Homo sapiens: one gene and its partner. The protein of the gene in region 2 interacts with the protein of the main gene of each other region in a pairwise test. Each region holds a gene or a part of one and is shown on either strand. Other genes may lie near its edges.

Region 1 (8,071 bases), on a different chromosome or scaffold from region 2:
AAAACATGTGTCCTCTCTTACATTTAATCATTAGTAGTCTCTAAAATGGTAAAATAAATTGAATTTACATTAGCAAATGAAAGTGCAAATTTGTACAGCTAGGCTCAGCAGCAAAAGTGAAGAATAAGAATGAAAGGTGAAAAGCTGGTGGATGCCATGCAGAGCGAGGACTTCCATAAAGGTCTGTGCCCTGCGGCCAAACACAGTCAACACACCACCATTTTCTTGTTGCTCTTAAATGAGCAAAACCAAATTTCTTTTTTATTTAATGAAATATTAAATCTTTATTTCCCCCTAACATAATTTGTGATCAAGTAGGACAGAGGTAAGTCCCACCATCACTGGGGACAGTAGCAACACACAGACTTCAGAAACAGCCTTGAATCATCAGTAACATCCTCCCCTGGTAACGTTAGAAGGAATGCATCTAATGACAAATTTGCAATGTTGTCACATTGTTCTAATTTATTTGATTAGTTTATCTGGAAAAACTTTACACATTATTGAAGACAACAGTAAATTATTTTCTTGCTCTGAAAAAATAATGTTTTTTCACATTTTAAAACCTTTTAGTATGCTTTTGCAAAAGTAGTTGCAAGAATATGACAGCTGGGTTTGCAGAATGTCCATGTACAAGTTTGTATTTATAAGAAACTGGTAATCTGCCTATAATTTGCCTCTACAAATAGAGCTCTTTAAAATAATATTTTTAAAAAAACAGGCTTAAACTTTTCCCTATTCATTCTACTTGTAGCAAAGAGGTACTTACTTTTCAAGTATTACATGGTAAAAGGCACAAGTTTTTTTTGCCAATTTTAAGCTGTTAAGCTTTAAGACCAAACTATGTGAAAAAAAATCATGCCTAGTCAATCCTAGTCAATCATTTTATAGCCAAATCCTCTTGTCTTTTAAATAACGCAGAAAAATACTAATTTGCTAAGAAGGAGCACACTGGAAAAAGCCATTTGAAAGTACTGAAGAATGAGGAGTATTTTTTTTCTACTGATGAAAATTATTAGGAAAGCTATCCTGTCTGTTGTCTTTAGCTAGTTTAAATAAATCTTTTCAAAATGATGGTCAAGAAATCTTTAGAAAACTGGAAGAGGGGATGCTCTTTTATAGCATGAAAGGAATTCCATTAATTATAGAAATTCTCGTTAAATTTTGACGTTGGTTCTTCAGAAAAAATACGCATTTAACTTCTGCAGTCTGTTGTGTTTGAACACCATCTACCTGAGCCAGGGGCCCAAGCGTTCCTTCATCATCAAAGGCCAAAACTGGATTCAAAGGAACTTCTGGGCTCTTACTGTTAGTGACATCTAATCTGGATGGTTTCGATCCAATGGGTAAATTTATAATTTCTTCAAAATTTTCATTCTGAACAGAGATACTCCATTTTCATTTGGTTTTCCAAATTGGGGGTGCTCTCCACAGTCACTTTTGATTGGTGTGAGGTAACCACATATGGGCTGGCAACTGGTTCTCCATTTCCCAGAGCATTTGTTGTACACGGAAGTATAGATAGCTCTGTTCCTCCAGTGAGAGCTCCCTTGGCTATATCACCATTTCTCTGATCAATGGTTTTCTTATCTGTAGCTTCTGTTCTCCTGCTTCAGGGCTGTTTCTTATAGCAACCCTCATATTGTTCACCAAAGCACAATGCAGTCATATCATCTGAGGACCCGGATCCAGGTGGGAATGGGAAGGTAAAGGACCACAGCTCTCAGGGGGTCTGCCTTAACCCAAAGGTAGATTTCAGTTTACAGATTAACTTCAAATGCACTAGTAAGTTTACTTATTATGTTTACTGCCTCCCCTTGCTGGAATGCAAGATCCATGAAGGCAGGGATTCTTTTCTGCTTTGTCATCATGTGACTCAAATTCCTCGAACAGTGCCTGGCACATACTAGCAGTTCTTTTTCTTTTTTTTTTGTTTTTGAGACAGAGTCTAGCTCTGTCGCCCAGGCTAGAGTGCAGTGGCACAATCTCGGCAACCTCCGTCTCCTGGGTTCAAGCAATTCTCCTGCCTCAGCCTCCCGAGTAGCTGGGACTACAGGGAGCACCACCACGCCCAGCTAATTTTTTTTTTAGTAGAGACAGGGTTTCACCATGTTGGCCAGGATGGTCTCAATCTCTTGATCTCATGATCCGCCTGCCTCGGACTCCCAAAGTGCTGGGATTACAGGTGTGAGCCACTGTGCCTGGCCAATATTTAATGAATGAATCAGGTTAACAAAAATTAAAAGTTGACAATATCGGCCGGGTGCAGTGGCTCACACCTATAATCCCAGCACTTTGGGAGGCCAAGGCAGTGGTGCACGCCTGTAATCCCAGCTACTCTGGAGGCCGAGGCAGGAGAATTGCTTGCACCCGGGAGGCAGAGGTTGCAGTGAGCAGAGATCACGCCACTGCACTCCAGCCTGGGTGACAGAGCAAGACTCCGTCTCAAAAAAAAAAGAGACTCACCATCAGAGAAATGCAAATCAAAACCACAATGAGATACCATCTCACACCAGTTAGAATGGCGATCATTAAAAAGTCAGGAAACAACAGGTGCTGGAGAGGATGTGGAGAAATAGGAACACTTTTACACTGTTGGTGGGACTGTAAACTAGTTCAACCATTATGGAAGACAATGTGGTGATTCCTCAAGGATCTAGAACTAGAAATACCATTTGACCCAGCCATCCCATTACTGGGTATATACCCAAAGGATTATAAACCATGCTGCTATAAAGACACATGCACACGTATGTTTATTATGGCACTATTCACAATAGCAAAGACTTGGAACCAACCCAAGTGTCCATCAATGATAGACTGGATTAAGAAAATGTGGCACATATACACCATGGAATACTATGCAGCCATAAAAAGGGATGAGTTCATGTCCTTTGTAGGGACATGGATGAAGCTGGAAACCATCATTCTCAGCAAACTATCGTAAGAACAAAAAACCAAACACCGCATGTTCTCACTCATAGGTGGGAACTGAACAATGAGAACACTTGGACACAGGAAGGGGAACATCACACACCAGGGCCTGTTGTGGGGTGGGGGGAGGGGGGAGGGAAAGCATTAGGAGATATACCTAATGTAAATGACGAGTTAATGGGTGCAGCACACCAACATGGCACATGTATACATATGTAACAAACCTGCATGTTGTGCACAGGTACCCTAGAACTTAAAGTATAATAATAAAAAATAAAAAATAAAAAGAGACTCCATCTCAAAAAAAAAAAGCAATGTGGCAATGTCTAGTAAAATTGAGAATGTACCCAGTAATTTTTCTAGTTAAATAACCTACAGAAATTCTAAGGCAGGTGCCAAAGGAGACACCTAAAAGCTTTTCACTACAGCAATGTTTGTAATAGCAAAAAATACTATAAATAATTTAAATGTGCATCTCTGTAAGAATGAATAAATATACTAAGTAAAATGGATGCATAAAATAGACTATTATAAAAATTAATGAGAATAAACTAAATTCTTATATTGGCATGAATAGTTCTAAAAAACAATGTAAGCAAAATGCAAAATAAAATGCAGGAATTTTATTAATGTAAAAATTTAAAATACTACTGTATATTGTTCAAGGATATCTATTAATATATTTGAATGTAAAAGTATAAAAAAAAGTAGTTGTCCATGGAGAAGTAAAAGGATGTAAGACAGGAAATGAACAAAGCAGACAGATAAACAAAACAAAGAGGGAAAAAGAGACCAGCAAGATTTTCCCTGACATTAAATACTAAAATAAAATACTTATGTCTGTATGTGGCTCAATATTGGCAGGGTAAAGTTTAAAGCTTTTTATTCTCAAGTTGATTGTAATCGTTGAGAGAACAAAGGAACACACTGGTGAGTTTAAAGCTTGGGCCTCTACCTGGCATGAGTAGCTGCTTTCCGCACCAAATCCAGAACATCTGTACTGGGGGTGTCTGACACTTGCGTGCTCTCTCTCATTCTGACCCCTTCTTTCCCCTTACATATCATTTTTTTTCCTTTCTTCCTTCCCTTGGGTCTCTTACCACAAAAGCTCCGCACCAGACTGGGGTTCTGACACTAACTTGGCATGTGATTCTGGGCTGCCACCTCACCATTCTGAACCTCAGTGTTGTCCCCTCTAAACCTGGGAGAACACCCATCCTGCCTGGAGGCAAGTATGGCTCGCTGTCAGTTCTCCTTTCTGCTGTTTCTCTATTCCAGCATCATCTCCAGCAGACTACAGGCATACAGAGCCTCCGCCTTAATCTCACCTCTGCTCTTTGTCTCTGCTTCAGCTCCTGCTGGGCTGATTTCTGTTTGGCCTTCTCAACTCTGCTGACAGATTCTTTAACTTTGGTTTTTTCTTTACGTGCAGGTGGATCCATGGCTTGACTTCTGGATATTTCTTAGGAGGCTCTGATCTGGGTGGTACAGAAAGAGGCAGATCTTCAAAACAAAACAAAACAAAAAATACCCTGCCAGTTACTCCTCTAATCCTTTAGCTCCGCCCCATCCTTTGCCAGGTGAGGCAGAGTGGTCTGGTGGCAAGGGCGCTGGATGTGGGGGAGTAGGAACCGAGTCCCAAGGCCACAACCTCGCTGGGTGTCCCTGGGCAAGTCTCCTCCCCACTTTGAGCCTTAGTTTTCTGTCTGCAAAATGGGTTAAGTGTTTTCCTGGCCTCCCTCCAGGAGCTGCTGTGTGCGGGTGAAATGCAAAGACCCCTGTGAAAGCGTTGCCCACTGTGCGGCGTGCGGCACCCAGCGCGGAACCGTCCTAATGGGACGCTGAGACCCAGAGGGCGCCCAGGGTTTTCCCACTGCGGCCGGCCTAACTCCGCCGCAGCAGCCGCTCCTGGGGCCAGGGGGCCGGGCCCCATAGCCAGCCGGGCCCGCCCCCCACCGCCCGGCCCCCCGACCCCGCCCCGGCCCGCCCGGCCCCAGGGGACGGCCCCCGCCTCCTGCCCTCTTCCCTCTCCTGGAGGAAAATGGCGGTCGCTGGAGCCGCCGACCAAGAGGCTTGGGAGTCTGTACCTTTCCCGACCGGGCCACTGGAAGTTGGAGCCTCCGCCGAGTCGCAGACAACGCCTCCGGGAGGGTAATCCTCGCCTTCCCCCGACCACTGGACCCAGCGCTGCCTGCCCACCGCCCCTCGTCCTGGGCGGGGCCGCGCGCCGGGGGGAGGGGCGCAGGGCCGAGCGCCAGGAGGCTTCCGCCCGCAGGAGCGGCCGCGCGTGCGCAGAGAGGATGGCTGGAAACCCGCGTAGAGGGCGGGGCGGGGCAAGCCGGTGCCGGGGCGGGGCAGGGGCGGAGCCACACCGGGGTGGGTGGTGGTTACGGCTAACCAAAGCTTTTTCCCGTTATATTTTCTGCAACAGCTACTAGGTTTTAGAGGGTGAGATCCGAATCCTGGAATTGGAATTGCTCAGAATTCGAATTCCGAGGCTCAATTTCTTAATTCGAAAAGTGGGGATTGATGATTGCCACCTTCTTCATTCATGAGTTTATTGGGAGGATCAAGTGAGATCCCGTTTGCCACAGTGCTTTGAAAAAGGAAATCTTGACAGAAGTACCAATAGCCAGTATAAATACAGAGAACATTCACGTTCAACTGATTACCGAGGAGATGTAAATTAAAATAGCTGGCTGTAATTTTCCAGGTATTACATTAGCAAGGATTGACAAAAATGATAATAGCTACCTTACATTTGGGCTTACTATATTCCAGGCACTGTTCTTACAGCTTCACATTTATTAACTAATTCCTCATAATAAGTGTGTATAATGTATACGTGTATATTATTATCCCCATTTACACATAAGGGAACAGAAGCATTGAAAAGTTAAGTGAGTTGTCCCGGGTCACACAGCTTCTAAGTGCTGGAGCAAATATTTCAGCCAGGATTCATAGGACAATGGCCTTATCCAAAGTAAAACCCTGTTTGGGTCCACTATTTGTTCCTCTATCAAACTGGCAAGAATTGAAACAACTGATAGATGCTAAGCAAGCAATGAACTCAGCCCAGATGGACACACGCTTCCAGTCAAACTGTAAATCGTTAACAGCCTTTCTGGAGGTCAGTTTAGTACTAGGTATCAAAAGCCTTAAAAGTGAGCACAATGCCCCAAAAAGACAAATACTGCATGTTTCCATTCATATGAAGTATCTAAAGCAATCAAAGTCTAAGAAACAGAAAGTAGAATGGTGACTGCCAGTGGCTAGGAGAGAGGGAAAAGAGGAATTGTTTAAAGGGTATAGAATTTTAGGTTTGTAAGGTGAAAAAGTTCTAGAGATCTACTGCACAATGTTTATTTTTTATTTATTTAATTTTTAAAAAATAGATGGGGTCTTGCTCTGTCACCCAGGCTGGAGTGCAGTGGTGTGATCATAACTCACTGTAACCTGGGCTCAAGCAATCCTCCCACCTCAGCCTCCAAAGTATCTGGGACTACAGGCACACACCATCATGCCTGGCTAATTTTTTAAAATTTTTTTGTAGAGATGGAGTCTCACTGTGTTTCCCAGGGTGATCTGGAAATCCTGGGCTCAAGTGATCCTCCTGCCTCAGTCTCCCAGAGTGCTGGGATTACAGATGTGAGCAATTGCGCCCAGCTTTTCCAAAATTTCTACAGTAAACGTTTATACTTTAGCAATCAGAGGAAAGTACATTAAATGTCTTTTTAAAAACCCTATACAAATGCTGATTCGATTATTATTAATAAAAGTAACCAAGTCAGAGTCTATTTCAGAAATCTTGATGTAGTACTGGTATTTTACATTTGTGTCACATGGTATGGTTTATAACGTTCATATAAGCTATGAACTAGATTACAGCTGAAGACACGGCAGGACCTTTAGAAGCCAGCTAAAAACAAACCAGCTATAGGGAATGGAGGAGTGGAAAAGCCACATGGAAGACTGGAAAAGTAGTGGTGCCACTGAGCCACTGTTGAAAGTGGAGAAGGTGTGATGAGTTGGTTTGGGAAACGGTGAGGAAGAGGATAAGTTAGGAGCGTGTGTGTGTGTGTGTGTGTGTGTGTGTGTGTGTGTGCGCGCGCGCAAGAGAGGGACCGAGAGAGAGAAAGAGCTAGATTACGCTTCAAGTGGCAATAGGCAAGAAGAATTGTCCAGTGAGCAATTAGAAGATTTCAGAAAAGAACGGAACTGGAGATACCAGTTTGGGATTCTACATTCTTTATTGGGAAGGTGAAGGTTGGAGCCAGGAGGGAGTGAATGTTGAGGCTGAACACTGTCAAAGTCCCCTCTCTATTCTTTCCATGAGTTTATGCTTTGTCTGTCTCTTTTGTGTCTACCAGTGGACTCTTGGCCAGGCTGCAGAATTTCCTGGTTTGTTGAATGACTAGCAAGAGTTTATAGTAATATAACTAGAATATTTTTACAGTTGAGGTATATACTACACTAAGATTATATTCACTTTATTGAATAATATTTTTTCTAGAGTCAAAAAATTATCTATTTTTATTTGCTTAATGATCTATGCATCCCTTGTTTATTTTTTATTTTCAGAGGTGGGCTCAAGTGATCCTCCCGCTTCAGCCCCTCAGTGGCTGGTACTACAGATGTGAACCAGGTCATTTACCAGTGTCTTTTTTTTTTTTCTTGGCAGCATCCCTCCTTAGACTCATCCTCTCTTTGCTCCAAACTCCTCTGCTTAGCCTTGCTTCACAGCTCTTGTCCTAGGATTAGGGACCTAACCACATTCTGGGGATTCTCTTCTTGTTTCTCCTGTGCCAAATCCCCTGCTCTCTGGATCTTATGTTTTTCCATTCTTGGTTTATTCTCTCATTTTGGAGGAGTATGTTCTCCACTAACTCCCCAGAAGGGGTTCATGGAAGCTAAATTTTTGAGTCCTTGCTTGTCTAAAAATGGCTTTATTTTCTTTCATCCTTGAGTGACAGATTTCCACATTGGAAATTATTTTCCCTCAGAAGTTTAACGGCATTGATTCATTGTCATCTAGCTTCTCATGTGGCTACTCTTGAGGAGACTGATTTATTCTGACTTGTGTTACTTCCCATATATTTTGTTTGTTAATTTGTTAATTTGTTTAGGATATTTTTCT
Region 2 (7,231 bases):
AAAGATGGAGAAACTGAGTTATTGAGGTTCCACAGCTAGTAAGTGGTGGTATCAGGTTTGAAGATAAGCATACTTTATAGCATATGGTTAGCTCCTTTAGAAAGATAATAAGTAGGATCAAACATGAGAAGTTCATGGGGCTGAACATTGTAAGTTACCAGATGGAACACAGTGCCCTGTGGTCACAACTTTAAGCTATGAAGAGCATGTGATTGATCCAGAATTGAAAACTCTGAAGAACATGTTTGGTTTACATGTTCGCTTTTTTTCAGCAGCTAACTCAGTTATCAGAGGTGATGTTGCATAGAGGTTAGGACTGAGACTTCCCTAAGTCAGAGATCTTTGTTTTGCTGTATAACCTTCAGGCATTGCTTGCATTCTCTGTGTGCCACTTTCCTCATCTGGAAAATGAGGATAATCATGACAGTACATACCATAGGGTGTGGTCATGATTACATGAGTTGATACACATAAGGCACCTAGAATGCCTTAGAATGGCACCTAGCACATAGTAATTGCTCAAAAACATTATAACCTCTTTATTATTATTATTTGTTTAGCCATCATTCAGTCAGCAAATGGTTTTTGGACCCAGGTTCTCCCTACATGCTACATCCTACTGTACCACTTCTCGGCCACAGATGAGCTCTCCTGTTTTAATTCTCCTTCCTGCAGATGATGAGCATTTTTCAGTGTTGCCTCCTTTTTGGTGCTGTCATCTCCTGTGCCTCAGCTTCCCTCCCCCATACCCTTCCTCATAGTAAGTTCTAGTGGATGACTCTGAGATCAGCTCAAAATTCTTCTTCTTTTTTTTTTTTTTTTTTTTTGAGACGCCCAGGCTGGAGTGCAGTGGCACGATCACAGTTGATTGCAACCTCTGCCTCGCAGGTTCAAGGGATTTTCCGGTCTCAGCCTCCTGAGTAGCTGGGATTACAGACATGCACCACCATGCCACGTCCGGGTAATTTGTTGTATATTTAGTAGAGAAGGGGTTTCACCATGTTGACTGGGCTGGTCTCAAACTCCTGACCTGAAGTGATCCACCAGCCTCTGCCTTCCAAAGTGCTGGGATTACAGGCGTGAGCTACCTCGCCTGGCCCCTTTTTATGTTCTACATTAATTTATTACCAATTGATAATGGGAGATAAAAGGCCCATTAACCTAAATGATAAGCAATGAGAAAATTGTAAAAATATGCAAGGAATCTCACTTACCATTCCTCACATTTACAAAGATAATTACCTTCCCTGTGGAAGAAATATAGACGTGAGAAAGCTCAGAAATAAAGGCACCACTAGGGGTCTTAGAACTTAAAAAGCTGTAAAGAACTCCAGAACTCTTTTCATCTATTCTCCTAACTTGCAGGGAGAGTTGAGGGTGAGGGAGGGGCATGGTCTGAGGCCCAGTGGCCACATCTCTAGCCTGTGGCTGGCACGCTATCTACTGCATCTGAGAGAATTGTGGGCAGGGTTTCAGTGGAACTTCTCACCACTGGGTATGTTTCAGCTGCTGCTATGATGCACAGTAGGATGTCATTGTCATCCATTTAACTTCATGCTGGGGCTATATTGTATTCTTTAGTGATTTGCCATTGATTAAGTGTGGATGTCTCTGCTACCACAGAAGAGCTATCTTGCAAGGAAACTAATGACAAAGCCATTGTTTAAACTGAATTAGTCAATCTCCAAGAAGACATCCATCTGTAAAGAATGAGAGGACTAATATCTGTACAGACATGAAAGAATTATAAGATGGAATTGTGGAAGTTAAGGAATTTAGAGGAGGAAGAAGGCATTTGCTCCAGATCACTTTGATAGTACAGACTAGAGTCAAGGAAATTAGGAGGTAATTAATAAGGGTAGAAGTCAGGGGAGAAGGTTTAAAGGGAGGTGGCATACAGGGGATAGTCGGGCTTTTGGAGGTGGACAGGGAGGGAGGACATTTCAGGCATGGAAGTGAAAAGTGAAGATTGTAGTGTCACAGTTCAGTGAAGAGACCTGGCTGACCAGAGCAGAAGTTTTATTTGGGTAAGTGGAAAGAATTGAACAGCTGAGAGTATGGCAGATCTTGAAGACAGGCAGAGGAGAATCAGCTTGAGGTACCCCCCAGAGTGTGCTTAACAGTGATGAGGATGAAGGGGAAAGTAGAGGGTTGGGAGAGGTGAAGTTTGAACCTCTTTTTTCCCTTGAGACAGGGTGTCACTCTGTCATCCAGGCTGGAGTGCAGTGGCACAATCACGGCTCATTGCAACCTCAACCTCCAGGGCTCAAGCAATCCTCCCAACTCAGCATCCTGAGTAGCTGGGATCACACGTGCATGCCATCACACCCAGCTAATTTTTTGTATTTTTACTAGAGATGGGGTTTTGCCATGTTGATCAGGTTGGTCTCAAATTCCTGGGTTTAAGCCATCTACCTGCCTTGGTCTTCCCAAGTACTAGGATTACAGGCGTGAGCACCATGCCTGGCCGAACTTCCCTTTCTTTAGTAGACTAGAGAAATTAATTTCTGTAATTCTGTGGAATGTCTTTGTATTAGTCATTCTCACACTGCTCTAAATAACTACCTGAGACTCGGTAATTTATGAAGAAAAGAGGTTTAATCAACTCAACTTCCGCAGGCTGTACAGGAGGCGTGGCTGGAGAAGCCTCAGGAAACTTATAATCATGGTGGAAGGCAAAGGGGAAGCAAGCATGTCTTCACATGGCGACAGGAGGGGGAGAGCACGTGAAGGGGGAAGTGCTACACGCTTTCAAACATCCAGATCTTGTGAGAACTTTAGATCATGGAACAGCACTAGGGGGATGTTGCTAAACCATTAGCAGCCACCCCCGTGATCCAGTCACCTCCCACCAGGCCCCACCTCCAACACTCAGGATCACAATTCAACATGAAATTTGGGTGGGGACACACAGCCAAACCATATAAGCGTATCATTTTTAGATACATTCCCTCCCCAAAACTTTTTTATTTTGTATAATTTGTCCTTTCCCCCTTGCTTTAGAATTGCAACCTTGCCAATGGACCTGATCGGTTTTGGTTATGCAGCCCTCGTGACATTTGGAAGCATTTTTGGATATAAGCGGAGAGGTAAGCCTAACCCAAATTTTCATGAAAGGGAATTAGTGGGGGTTTGGAGGTTGTGCTAGGTCATGTGAGGCTCTGTAAGTAGGATGAGAAGCTAAAGATGCCTTAGAGGTGGCTGAAGACCAGCGTGTCTTGGAAGGGACTCATGAAAGGAAGAGGCTTCCGTGGGGCTGAGCATGACAGAGTGTTCCAACCTGGGGGTTCTGGGCCTCTCTTCCACCACAAAACTCTCACTTCACTTCATCATCAGTTGCATAGTTAATTGATTTAATCTCCCTCAGGACCACTGCTTATTATTAAATGAGGATTTTTTTTTTTTGCTTTACATAATCGTGGTACCAAAAAACTGAGTTATATTGATCCTGTGTGTTGTAATGAAAACATTGTTAAATATTCAGTTATCATATCCAAAGTTGTCTCTTCACCTTTGTCCAAAAGAGGGGGGAAAAAAACTCAGGTAATCAATTAAAGAGTTTTCATGGAGAAAAAGGAAAGGTCAAATTTTTTTATTTTACTTTTATTTTAGAATCATTTATAGTTATGATGTCTCCTAGTTATGTTTCATATATATACACAACCTTTAGTCATCTTTCTGACAAACTGTCTCTTACGTTTTAATGACATTTTTTAAATGAAGTTTTTTATTTCAAAGGGTATTGTATTTGTGGCAGTGGTTGACTTGAATTTGAGTGAAAAAGCCAGGTCTACATGGTTACCAGTTAGCTTCCTTCCTTAAAGGCTGCTAAGAAGTCAAAGACCAGAAGCACCGTATAGCTCTTGTAGCTGGGGGGCTGGCAGGTAGAATTGACCATCATCTACGATTCCTTAAAGCCTGTAATTCACCTTGGATTTTTGTTCGTTGTTTCTGTCTTAATGTATGTATTAGAGATGTGTATTTGAAGGAAAAAAAAAGATGATGGCACCAAAGTAAGACCTGTAAACCAAGTACTCAGAGGTTGATGTTTCACAATCTACTTTAGAAAGAACTCAGTTTAAAATGCTAAGATTGTTTTTGAAAAAAAATTTTCACTGTCAAAGACAATGTCTAAATAACTTCTATTACAGAACAGAAAAGAACATCTGGGCATTTTTGCCTGCCTTTATGAGAGGTGGAAAGAAAGTGGGGAGAGAGATATAGAGAGTGTGTGTATGTGTGTGTTTGTGTGTGTGTGTGTGTGTGTGTGTGTGTGTGTGTGTGTGTGGAAGGAATCATTTTATTCTAACTCACATCTCTTCATTGTTTACCAGCTGGTGGGAACAAATGAAATTACATTAGCTGTGAGGTCTCTGATTTCAAGGGCTTGTTGTCCACCTGCACAATATGGTTTCTTGGCCTCCTGCAAGAGCCCCCTACTAAGTGATCCTGGAAGCCCCCAAGGGTATTATGGGTTCACAAGGAAGCTCACTTTGTAGTATAATGTGGGTTAAAAGCATGGGCCACAGAATCAAGCATTCCTGCATTCCAGTCTTGACGCTGCCACTTACCAGCACTGATACTCAGGTGAGATGTTTCAACATCTGGGCCTCAGTTCCTCACCTGTAAATTAATCTGTTAGGATTAAATAAGATGATGCATGGTACACATTTCACATGGTGCCTGGCATAGAATAAAGTTTTAATCTTCTTGTTTTTTTCTGCTGCTACTGCCCTGCCAGTGGGAGGTCTGTGAGCCATGAGGCATAATACCTTTTTCTAGTTTTGTACTCTAGTTTTGTATTATGTTCTAAGCTGCCAGTGGCTCGAATGTCTTAGAATGTGTGTGTAAAGTGAGTTAACTCTCCTTTGACTTAGAGCTTCCCTAGGTATGAGTCCTATGTAGCTGGGCCAGGAGACCCTTCTACGGGACAGTTATTGAGAATAATCTTGGGTCGGTGAAAGATGTGATGTCGAAATGGTGTTTAGTGGGAGGACACAGATGTATCCAAATCCTAAACTAGACCAGCTGTGAGACACAAGTTGGGTTAAACGGAGAAGCTGATAGATTTTTATTTTGATGGGGGTACAGTGGGGAGAGAGGGCAGCCAGTGGCGGGACACAGGATGCTGAGCACTGTGCTTGCCTGGGCTCACCCCTCCTCCCAGGTAGGTCTCCAGAGAGGTGGATGACCAAGAAGATGCTATGATATGGAGGCTCTTCCTAGGCCAGGTAACATCGAGTGCCCAGAGTGAAAGAGGGCCAGATGGCATTCCCTGCCTTGTCCCACACTAGGGCTGAACCAGACCTTACACCTTCCTACTCCAGTTGAAGGGAAGGGCACTGACACAGCAATCCCTTCAGAGAGGTGCAGGTGTGCTTGCTGGGCAGGCTGCTATTTGGACGACCATAAGAGCACCTGCAGGGAAGCTCCCAGATGCATCTTTCAACTCTTTTTAAAACTCCTCTTCCAAGACTGCCCCACCCAGATCAGGCATCCCAGGAAGTGGGAAGGAAAAGAGCTTAGAGCTCCTTTTCTTGTAGCCCCCACTATGGGTCACTGAGCTTGTTCTCAGGATCTTTGCTTTCTTCCACCAGCGTGGTTTTCTTGTAAAACAGCCCACAGTCCTGCCACCTTCCTCAGGCAAGATGAAATGTCTCAAGAACCTTCCTGGTTCTTGCTGCTGGTGAGCCTGCCCCTGCTGTTTGCTGTCTGATCTCATCAAGACTGAAGTGTAGACACTGCCACTTTCTCCACATACTTAAGTGTGCGTGTTTGGTGGTGGTGGGGAGGGTGGGGTGGGGTGATCCTAACAGTAAATAAACCTTCAGGGTATACAGAAAGGAGCATCATAGAATCTCTAGGTGAGAAGACACCTTAATGGTCACCTAGTTGTGCATTTCAGAAAGTGTTTTAATCTCCTTAATATCCTTATCTGGTATCTTCTGCTTGAACATGACCCATAATAGGGGTGCATTAAATCAGTATTTATCAAGTGCTCCTATGTACCTGGCCCTGTGTCTCGCCCTGGGGAAACAGCAATCGCTCACAAGTGAGTAAGGGCAGACTGACATTCAATCCATGAACAGCATATAAACATATGATCAGGAATAGCGGAAGACTATGATGGGGGCCCTTGTTCAGAATGGTGGGTTGGAGAAGACAACACTTAAGCAGACATCCGAAGGTGAGCTACACTTGGCCAAGTGAACAGTGCAGAGACAAGCAGTCTGCACAAGGAACAGTATGTCTGAAAGCCATGACGAATAGAGTTTGGTATATTCAGAGAACTGAAAGAAGGCCAGGGTTCCCACAATATAGCAAACTGGATTATTTTTCCTAAGAGCTTTGGGAAGCACTAAGGTTTTTAATTAGGAGAGTGACCTGTCCAGATGTATGTTTTTAAAAGATCATCTTACTGTGTTTGAAGAATAGCTTTTGGGGGAAACAATGTGTAATTTAACATTATCTCCAACTGTAACATTCTAAGCCACTATATATTTATATATTTATATATATATATATATATGTATATATATGTGTATATATATATGTGTGTATATATATGTGTGTGTATATATATGTGTATATATATATATACATATATGTATATATATATATACACATATATATATGGCATGGATGATTAACCCCGTTTTACAACTGCTAAAACTTAGAGAGGCTAAGTGACTTAGCCAGAGTCCTTTAGCCAGCAAGTGAAAGAATTAGGAGTAGAACCTAGCGTGTTTGTCTTCTCATTCAGAATGCTGCTCTGGTGTGTGTGTGTGTGTTGTGTGTGTGTGTTTGTGTGTTGTATGTGTTGTGTTTGTGTGTTTGTGTGTGTGTGTGTATTGTGTGTGTATGCATGCATGTGCTGCAGTGGTTCTTAACCCTGGCTGCACATTTGAATTTCCAATGGATATTTTAAAAATGAGATGCTTTGACCCTACCCCCCAGGGATTTTAACCTAACAGATTCTAAATAGGGTGAGTTCCATGAAGCAAGGATTGTGTGTGTCTTATTCATAGTGTCACTGCCATGTAACCCACTGTCCAGTGCACAGAAAGTGCTTGGTGTTTGCCACAGTGCTCTGGGGTGGGTATGTGGGTTGGGGGCTGGGAGTGTACTGGTGGGGTGAGTGCATGGGATAGGGACTGGGTAGCTGGGGTCAGTATTCTGATTCTTCGTCTTTCTTGGTAGGGCCTCTATTAGTCCTTGAGTCCTGACATCT

Evidence for each region. Proteins that work in one complex are often made in the same cells at the same time.
Region 1: the proteins of TMEM14A (region 2) and ERMAP interact in binary tests that used the Homo sapiens proteins (3 or more experiments, as listed by UniProt).

The regions. Positions count from the first base shown.
Region 1 is NC_000001.11:42,812,169-42,820,239, forward strand, and holds the start of ERMAP (erythroid membrane-associated protein precursor), read left to right. Parts: upstream 1-4,953; 5' UTR 4,954-5,085; exon of another isoform or gene 5,086-5,229; intron 5,230-5,365; exon of another isoform or gene 5,366-5,647; intron 5,648-8,071. Other genes in the region: SVBP (small vasohibin-binding protein), read right to left, coding at 4,263-4,376. UniProt on the Homo sapiens protein: Possible role as a cell-adhesion or receptor molecule of erythroid cells.
Region 2 is NC_000006.12:52,674,084-52,681,314, forward strand, and holds part of TMEM14A (transmembrane protein 14A), read left to right. Parts: intron 1-3,003; 5' UTR 3,004-3,019; coding exon 3,020-3,089; intron 3,090-7,231. UniProt on the Homo sapiens protein: Inhibits apoptosis via negative regulation of the mitochondrial outer membrane permeabilization involved in apoptotic signaling pathway.